Regions from separate parts of the Homo sapiens genome. Here all the other regions are reported to be linked to region 1. The links are microRNA targets in miRTarBase. Many come from high-throughput screens and were not tested one by one. Region 1 holds a microRNA gene; each other region holds the end of a gene's coding sequence.
The links. The annotated mature microRNA hsa-miR-6792-3p reads CUCCUCCACAGCCCCUGCUCAU and lies in region 1 at 2,195-2,216, opposite strand. An mRNA with a match to its seed (bases 2 to 7 or 8) in the 3' UTR can be bound and repressed. Matches are read on the target gene's strand: a 7mer-m8 pairs with bases 2 to 8, a 7mer-A1 pairs with bases 2 to 7 and ends in A, and an 8mer does both.

Region 1 (3,176 bases):
GGGACAGGCCAACGCCAGGAGGGTGACTGGCTCCCGCCTTCCCCACAGAGGTTCGGCTGGAGCAGCAGAGCGTGCCAGCCGCAGTGTTTGGGAGCCTGAAGGAAGACTGACCCGTCCCTCCCCCATCCCCCCTCCCCACCCCCTCCCCAATACAGCTACGTTTGTACATCATGGTCTGAGCCTCCTTCCTGCTGCCCAGGTGCCCGAGGGAGTACAGCTCAGGAGTGCCTGGCCCTGGGCCGGGATTGGCTGCTGTGGGAGGTGGGGCGGCTGGGCCCCAGGCCAGATACTGCCCGGCCTCACCCCGCAGAGCCAGTTCTGGACTCGAGAGGCCAGTCCCTCCGCTGCCTGGGGCCTTGGAGTGGGTCCTGCCCGGAAACTTCCTTGAGCCTCTGTAGCCTGGGAAGGGCAATCCAGCCCCTGGCTGCCCAGGTCTCGCCAGCCCCTGCCTCTCAGAGCCCTTCTGTGGCCCCAGGCAGCTGCCGCCTCCCTGGGGTGGCACCCACTGTCTGTTCCCCACTAGGGACTGGCCCTTGCCCTCAAGTCTTGGAGTCAGGCAGGCTCTGGCCCAGCTCTGGGAACTGATTAGTAACGCGTTTCTGTGCCTGGACGGGGGCCAGGCGCCAGACCTTGTGCACGGCCCAGGACCAGGGCGTGGTCCTTAGTCCTAAGCCTGGGAAGCCATTAGCGGGCTGTAGGCTATTAAGGGGTTTTAAGTATCAAGGGATATAATCAGATTTGTGCTTCGAACGGGTCACACAGGCTGCTGTGTGGGCAGGAGGCAGCTGGGGACATGGGGAGGCCCAGGCCATTGGCTTGGACTTTGCAGGGAGGTGACAGGGCTGGAGAGAAGCGAGTGAGACAGGAGGGGAGGGCTGAGCTGTGTAGAACTGGGCGGCAGCTGGGAAGCCAGTGCCAGCCTGGGTTGCAGGGCAGGCCTTGCATCTGAGAGAGACACCCAGGCAATGGCAGGGGGCAACTGGATTGTCAAACACAGATCTCAGAGAAACCTGGAATCACTGGCCCAGAGGTAGATGCCAGGCCTGGAAACACCAGGCTGGCCAGGGGAGACAAGATCAAGTTAGAAGTTGGCCCCATGCCAAACGCTGGTTAGGGCCAGTAACAACAGCCACACAGACCAGGAGAATCCAGCAAGCGGGGGTGGCCAAGGCCACAGGAAGGGCCAGTGGGACACCTCGAGCCTGAGAGATCAGTTCAGAGGCAGCTTCGAAACAGCCCTGGCTGGGGGCTGGGAGTGCCCTGGCTGAAGCTGCATTAGGGGATTATGGGGGTTGAAGACAGGAGTTGGTTTGAGAAAGAACAGGAGACTAAAAACACAGCCAGGGAGTGTGGGACCCCGGCCAGCCTCGGAGGGGGGGACAAGGTTCAACTTCTCTTTAAATTATTTTATTCAAGAAGTGGGGGAGGACAGACAAGGGGACTGAGCTGAGCCCTGAGTCCCTGAACCTCCCAGCTCAGCCCCCACAGCAGGACTGGACTCAAAGTCAGAGGGTGGAGACTCCAGCCCCACCCAGACACGGTTGGGGACAGACAGGACCCAGGAATACCGACTGACTGTCCTCCAGGGGATGGCGGCCGCAGCACACAGGGCCCGGCCCGTGGACCGCCCGGGTGGGGCTATTTGGGGGTGCCGCCGCCCTTCTTGGGAGTGGTGGGTTTCTTGCCCTGCCAGAGGTGTCCCTGGATGGTGAAGGCATCGACGCTCATGGACATGGTCTTGGCGGGGATCTGGGTGAAGCGCTTGCGGTCCGAGTTGTACTTGTAGATGCCTTCCACCATGGCGGGCGTGACGGTCCGGGGCCCATACCCTGCCAGCCGCGACAGCTCCTCTGTCTCCCCCGACAGCGTGTAGAGCGCCCGGAACTGGCAGCTCGAGTCGCGAAAGAGGATCAGGAAGTGGTTGGCCTTGCTTTTCTCAATTTCCTGGGCAGGAGTGCTGGAAATGGTCAGCTGGCCAAGTCAGGCCACCCACCCACCCACCAGCCCCCAACTCCCACGTGTGGGCGGGCTCACCTCCAGAATGCGATTCTTCTGCGGTTCGTTCACCTTGCCCGCCAGGCAGCAGTGTGATAGGGCATTGTGGATGATGAACTTGTTGGACTTGGCGCTGGGTTCTTTGTACAGCCGTGGACCTAGAGGGTGAGGCAGTGGGAGGGGGTGGGGGGCAGCAGGAATGAGCAGGGGCTGTGGAGGAGGGTGCCTGTTGCTCCTCACATCACCCAGAGCCCCTGCTTACCTGTGTACTCGGGCACTGACGCTGGGGAGGAGGCATTGCTGCCATTTTCCCAGTCCCGTTCGCGGCTTCCAGGCAGGCGGCTTGGGGACATGAGACCTGACGGGGAGGGAGCCCTGCAGTGGGAGAAGGATGGGATGGAGGTGGGGTCAGGATGGGATGGAGGTGGGGTCAGAGATGGGAAGCTTCCCTATGTGCAGAGGGGCCAAGGAAAATAAGGGCCACGGCTGGGCATCGTGGCTCATGCCTGTAATCCCAGCACTTCGGGAGGCCAAAGCGGGCAGATCACTTGAGGTCGGGAGTTCGAGGCCAGCCTGGCCAACATGGTGAAACACCGTCTCTACAGGCACGGGTAACCCCAGCTACTCAGGAGGCTGAGGCACGAGAATCACTTGCACCCAGGGGGCGGAGGTTGCCGTGAGCCAAGATTGCGCCACTGCACTCCAGCCTGGGCGACACAGCAAGACTCCCTCTCAAAAAAACAAAAAAAAAAAAAAAAAAAAAAAAGGCGGGCCACACACACTGCAGAGGAGGCGGTATACACTGCACACCCTCCCAAGTCCATGCAGTGCCCCGTGCTGTCCTCCTCCCACAGGAACACCTGGCACTCAAGTGCACTGAGGCACATGCTTGAGTCCTGTCTGCCAGGTACAGACTATGCCCCATGCACACGTGCCCACACGCGTCCCTCCATCTCTTCATGGCGTATCCATAAACTCGAGCCATACCGCCCTCTAGGTTCACCCAGATGCCCACACACCTCCCAGGCTCTGGGAAGCCACCCGGCATACGAACCCCGCCTGTGCGGGCTAAACTCACCGAGACGTGGGCCTCTTCACCCCGAGGTTATTGTGGGCCTCGTTGGCCACAGTGGACAGTGACAGGGTGGACTGGGAATAGATTTTGCTCAGCCGAGAGCCTG
Region 2 (3,176 bases), not on the chromosome of region 1:
GGGCAACAGAGCAAGACCATCTCAAAAAAGAAAAAAAAAATGGTATTCCCTTTAGACTAGAATAATAGGAGAACATAAAAATTAGCTACCACTTAAAAAAAAAAATAGCTACTACTCTACCCAGATACATGTAATTTTTTGAATCTGTTTAAAGGCTGTTTTCACAAAACAAGCACAGAGCTAAAGGTAGTTTAGACATTAGAGTTCATGATATATTGGCAAGCTAATTCCTTTATGAAAATAATTTTCTGCTATTTTTGCACTCAGGAACTGACTTTAACTCCGTAACTTTTTTACTCTTTACCCAGAAATACTATTCTGACCTGCCCATCAGGATGTGAATTGACACACCCTTCCTTTCCTTTACAGAGTCTGCTGAAACGTTACCAGCCCCACCGAGTCCCTTCCACTTGTTGTGCCCCAGTGAAGACCAAGCCGCTGAGCATGCTGTATGTGGATAATGGCAGAGTGCTCCTAGATCACCATAAAGACATGATCGTGGAAGAATGTGGGTGCCTCTGATGACATCCTGGAGGGAGACTGGATTTGCCTGCACTCTGGAAGGCTGGGAAACTCCTGGAAGACATGATAACCATCTAATCCAGTAAGGAGAAACAGAGAGGGGCAAAGTTGCTCTGCCCACCAGAACTGAAGAGGAGGGGCTGCCCACTCTGTAAATGAAGGGCTCAGTGGAGTCTGGCCAAGCACAGAGGCTGCTGTCAGGAAGAGGGAGGAAGAAGCCTGTGCAGGGGGCTGGCTGGATGTTCTCTTTACTGAAAAGACAGTGGCAAGGAAAAGCACAAGTGCATGAGTTCTTTACTGGATTTTTTAAAAACCTGTGAACCCCCCGAAACTGTATGTGAAAGTTGAGACATATGTGCATGTATTTTGGAGGTGGGATGAAGTCACCTATAGCTTTCATGTATTCTCCAAAGTAGTCTGTGTGTGACCTGTCCCCCTCCCCAAAGATTAAGGATCACTGTATAGATTAAAAAGAGTCCGTCAATCTCATTGCCTCAGGCTGGGTTGGGGGAGCCCCACAGCTTTCTGGCTGGCCAGTGGCAATCTACTGGCCTTGTCCAGAGGCTCACTGGAGTGGTTCTCTGCTAATGAGCTGTACAACAATAAAGCCATTGTCTAGTTCTCCTGGGCCAGCTGGTGCCTGTGAAGGCAGAGGCAGGAACTCATCCAAGAGGACCGGCCATGTTGGGTTACAGAAGACATCCCTGCGTCAGTCTGCTTCGGCAGACACAGCCTGAGTTTGTTAAAGTTGGTGACAATCCACCTCAGTCTCTCAATGTGTGCTATTAATGAGGCCTCTGAGCTTCCTATCCAGCAGTGGTGAAGGCCTTGCCCTGGGTGGCAAGATACTTGCTCTATGGTCACAGCTCAGCCACTGGAAGCTGTGCGACCTCAGGTGAGCAATTCACTGTCCAGTCTCCACTTGTAAAAGGAACGCTGGTGAATCCTAATGCATTCATATTAAATGTCTGTTGTCAGGCTCAGAAGAGCCATGAGCTTTAAGCTGTAGACTGAATAGGAAGAGCTACCTTATCCCTACCTCCCTCTAAAGCTTATAAAGCTTGCTAAACCCAGTCCCTGCCACATGCCCTTAATCTAACCTTTATCGGCTCTTTTGTTACTCAGGGTTCTAAGACAGACTTAATTTCAGGTTCCACATGGGAAGCACAGCAAAAGGAGCCTGAGTGAGGCAGCTCTATCCCCAAAAACCCCTGACCACAGTTATCTTCCAGGTAAAAAGACCTCAAAGGCAGCAATTCTGGCTGGGTGCAGTGGCTCATGCCTGTAATCCCAGCACTTTGGGAGGCTGAGATGGGAAGATCACTTGAGTCCAGTAGTTCAAGACCAGCCTGGGCAACATAGTGAGAACCTGTCTCTGTTTAAATAAAACAAACAAAAGAAGCAATTCTGCTCTTAACAGCTTGATCTCATTGAGCATTGCCAAAGCAGGGGCACTTTTTTTGTAGTTTCATGGAGCAAAGGGGCCACTTTATTGGGAATGTGAGCCCACAGTATATCTACCCCATTCTGCTTTCCCAAGAAGCCTACCCACTTATGCTAAAGAAAATGATTCCAATCATTTGTGAACCCTGTTGAGCTCAGACGAACTCAACTGAGGCTTTGGTTGAGTCAACACCATAGTCATGGCCCAGAAAGGGGCTGGATTTGCTGGAGCCAGGCCTGGGCTTGAGAAACCTCAGTGCCTTGATTCCACAACAAAGCTGATCCAGCTGTTCACTGCCTGGACTAGAAATAGACTGCCCAGATCCAACAATTCAGAATCAACAGGATTCTGCATCTGCCCATATACAGAACAGCAGAGCAGGGACAACCTTGTGAGGTCAGCTTGTCTGATCCCCATTCCTAAGTGAGACCCCAGGGAGGCCTCAGGGCCTGACCACACAGCTAGGAGTGGCAGGGCCAAGAGCTGAGCTCTGGTCTCTTGAGCCCTACGGGCACTTACTGCTTAACAGCAACTAGAGGTTTGTGCTCACCTATCTTGGGATCCAAGCCTTAGCCTTTAGAACCAAACATTTGAACCCAATTACACTACTGAACTAGTTCTTAGAAGTGAACATCCCACCCCAGGACTTTCTTACATGGCTGGTGCCAGAGAGCGAAAGGTCAAGCTATTTGTAGCTACAGCTTGTGGGAGTGTTTACAGTCAGCTGTATTGACTCCAAGAACAAACCCTTGACGACAGGGCATTGCCTCATGTCAAATAAAAGTAGTGCACAAAGTAGTGAAACTCTGTGTTTTGCTGACCCCTGCTGAAAGCTCAGTGTTTGCTACGTCAGCAGCAGAGTCATTCTGTTGCCTGGACAGAGTCACTGGGGCAAAGCCTACCTACCCGAGCCTAGGGAATAGCTCCATGCTCTAGGCCATGTGCTTGCTGAAGGCTCTATAAGTCACTTTAAATACTACCTTGGAGAATTGTGTCCTGTCTGAACCTGGGATGTTTTCTGTTGTTTTGATACAGGATCTTGCTGTCAACCAGACTGGAGTGCAGTGGCACAATCATGGCTCACTGCAGTCTTGCCATCCTGGACTCAAGCAATCCTCCTACTTCAGCCTCCCAAGTAGCTGGGACTGCAAGCATGCACCATCATACCCAACTAATTTTTTAGATTGTTTTTTGTCAAGACAGGGTCTCG
Region 3 (3,176 bases), not on the chromosome of region 1:
CAATAGAGTAAGAGAAGAGGCCTGGGCTGCAAACTCAAAGGCTGGCAGGGGCCAGTCAAGTTATTTTAAAATATGATGTGCCAAGTTAAATAAGGCTGTTGGTGAATTTGGGACTGCAGGCCACTTGTTTGAGACTGCATTTATAAAGGTGTTCTCTGATAGGGAGCAGGGGTAACAAAGAGCCTTTGTTTTTTGTTGTTGAATTGATGAAATTCATGTAAATGTAGTGGCACCTTGCTGTTTTCCCTTTCTGAGGCTGTACACACAGAGGTTAAGATCACAAGCTGTGGAGTTAGACAGACCTGGGTCCAAATTCTAACTCTGTGTTGCAGCCAGATGGTCTTGGGCAGTAACTTGGCCTGTCTGAGCCTCAGTTTCCTTATCCTTAGAAAGGCAATAATAATACCTACCTCCTGGTGGTAAGGATCACATGAGATAATGCATATGAAATTCAGTACTGGGCCGGGCTCATGAGAAGAGCTCAATGAACAGCAGCTGCTATGATTATGGAACTACTTCTTACAAGCATGTTTTGTTTCTTTCTGCCCTTCCCCCACAGCACCCAGTTTGGCCTTCTCTGAGGTCAGATCGGAACAACTCACTTGAAAAAAAGTCAGGTGGGGGAATGCCAAAAACACAGCAAGCCTTTTGAGAAGAATGGAGAGTCCCTTCATCTCAGCAGCGGTGGAGACTCTCTCCTGTGTGTGTCCTGGGCCACTCTACCAGTGATTTCAGACTCCCGCTCTCCCAGCTGTCCTCCTGTCTCATTGTTTGGTCAATACACTGAAGATGGAGAATTTGGAGCCTGGCAGAGAGACTGGACAGCTCTGGAGGAACAGGCCTGCTGAGGGGAGGGGAGCATGGACTTGGCCTCTGGAGTGGGACACTGGCCCTGGGAACCAGGCTGAGCTGAGTGGCCTCAAACCCCCCGTTGGATCAGACCCTCCTGTGGGCAGGGTTCTTAGTGGATGAGTTACTGGGAAGAATCAGAGATAAAAACCAACCCAAATCATTCCTCTGGCACATTATTTCTAAATAAGTGTTGTTTGTGGAAATCGTCCTATTTTTATGCCTCGGTTGAGGGGGCAAGTAAAGTCCTGGTGAGGAATTTACAGTTAGAAACTTTTGGAAAAACTGAAGTTCCTGGAGGAAAGCCAAACCGTGCTAACACACTAGAGGCTGGTTTTGGTCCTGGGAAAGGTTTGGGGTGAATGGGTTGGAAGTAGGGTATGAATACAGTTTTGGGATTTAACTCAGTGGTTCTTCATTCCTGCTGGTGGCTCCTTGCGGGGCCTCACCACATGCCTCCTAATTTGAAATTTCTGGGTGAAGTTTAGGCATTTGTCTTTCCTGATACTCATGGGTTGCCACAGTGGACAGCCACTGATTTAATTCTTGGTCTGAAATGTGCGGTTCCTATACTTTTAGTTGCTATTGTAAGATTTGATAAGGTTAGTCTTAAAAATCCTTTGGCGGGGGGCATCCAAATTGGTAATGAGGAAGTCAAACTGTCTCTGTTTGCTGATGACATAATCATAAACCTTGAAAACCCTAAAGACTCATCCAAAAAGCTCCTAGAACTGGTAAATGAATTCAGCAAAGTTTCAGGATACATAATTAATGTATACAAATCAGTAGCTTTGCTGTACACCAATAGCAACCAAGCTGAGAATCAAATCAATAACTTAATCTCTTTTATAATAGCTGCAAAAAAAATTAAAATACTTAGGAATATACTTAACCAAGGAGGTGAAAGACCTCTACAATGAAAACTACAAAATACTGCTGAAAGGAATCATAGACAGCACAAATGGAAACACATCCCATGCTCACGCATGGGTAGAATCAATATTGTGAAAATGACCATACTGCCTGTATTTAGTTTGTTTTCATGCTCCTGATAAAGACATACCCGAGACTGGGAAGAAAAAGAGGTTTAATTGGACTTACAGTTCCACATGGCTGCAGAGGTCTCAGAATCATGGCGGGAAGTGAAAGGCACTTCTTATACGGCGGTGGCAAGAGAAAATGAGGAAGATGCAAAAGTAGAAACCCCTGATAAAACCATCAAATCTCATGAGACTTATTCACTACCATGAGAACAGTATGGGGGAAACCACCTCAATGATTCAAATTATCTCCCACTAGGCCCCTCCCACAATATGTGGGAATTATGGGAGTATAATTTAAGATGGGCTGGGTGCGGTGGCTCTCGCCTGTAATCCCAGCACTTTGGGAGGCCAAGGCAGGCAGATCACAAGGTCAGGAGATCGAGACTATGGTGAAACCCCATCTCTACTAAAAAAAATACAAAAAATTAGCCGGGCATGGTGGCGGGCGCCTGTAGTCCCAGCTACTCGGGAGGGTGAGGCAGGAGAATGGCATGAACCCGGAAGGCAGAGCTTGCAGTGAGCTGAGATTGCACCACTGCACTCCACACTGGGCAACAGAGCGAGACTCCATCTCAAAATAATAATAATAATAATACTTTAAGATGATATTTGGGTGGGTACACAGAACCAAACCATATCATTCCACCTCTGGCCCTTCCAAATCTCATGTCCTCACATTTCAAAACAAATCATGCCTTCCCAACAGCCCCCAAAAGTCTTAACTCATTTCAGCATTAACCCAAAGTCTACAGTCCAAAGTCTCATCTGAAATAAGGCAAGTCCCTTCCACCTATGAGCCTGTGAAATCAAAAGCAAGCTGGTTACTTCCAACATACAATGGGGGTAAAAGGTATTGGGTAAATACAGCCATTCCAAATGGGAGAAATTGGCCAAAACAAAGTGGTTACAGGGCCCATGCAAGTCTGAAATCCAGCAAGGCAGTCAAAATTTAGAGCTTCAAAAATGATCTCCTTTGACTCCAGGTCTCACATCCAGGTCACACTGATGCAAGAAGTGGGTTCCCATGGTCTTCGGCAGCTCTGCCCTGTGGCTTTGCAGGGTACAGCCTCCTTCCTGGCTGTTTTCATGGGCTGGCAGTGAGTGTCTGCAGCTTTTCCAGGTGAACGGTGCAAGCTGTTGGTGGATCTACCATTCTGGGGTCTGGAGGATGGTAGCCCTCTTCTCACAGCTCCACTAGGCAGTGCCCCAGTAGGGACTCTGTATGGGGGCTCTGATCTCACATTTCCCTTCTGCACTGCCCTAGCAGAGGTTCTCCATGAGGGC

Region 2: the mRNA of NODAL is a reported target of hsa-miR-6792-3p. Seed matches in the 3' UTR shown: 7mer-A1 at 730-736.
Region 3: miRTarBase lists JAML as a target of hsa-miR-6792-3p. Seed matches in the 3' UTR shown: 8mer at 829-836 and 8mer at 1,145-1,152.

What each region holds. Positions count from the first base shown.
Region 1 is chr19:7,616,520-7,619,695 of GRCh38, reverse strand. MIR6792 (microRNA 6792) reads right to left here and starts at 2,257; the gene lies at 2,191-2,257. It overlaps CAMSAP3 (calmodulin regulated spectrin associated protein family member 3), which reads right to left. Exons shown (of 17, transcript NM_020902.2): 14 at 3,074-3,173; 15 at 2,258-2,370; 16 at 2,035-2,153; 17 at 1,392-1,944. The coding sequence ends at 1,639. XAB2 (XPA binding protein 2) reads left to right here. Exons shown (of 19, transcript NM_020196.3): 19 at 49-171. The coding sequence ends at 110.
Region 2 is chr10:70,430,282-70,433,457 of GRCh38, reverse strand. It overlaps NODAL (nodal growth differentiation factor), which reads left to right. Exons shown (of 3, transcript NM_018055.5): 3 at 370-1,522. The coding sequence ends at 522. Among named protein-coding and RNA genes, the nearest start is that of NODAL, 9.8 kb to the left of the region's middle.
Region 3 is chr11:118,191,801-118,194,976 of GRCh38, reverse strand. JAML (junction adhesion molecule like) reads left to right here. Exons shown (of 10, transcript NM_001098526.2): 10 at 560-1,252. The coding sequence ends at 652. Among named protein-coding and RNA genes, the nearest start is that of SCN2B, 17 kb to the right of the region's middle. RefSeq lists an enhancer at 524-713.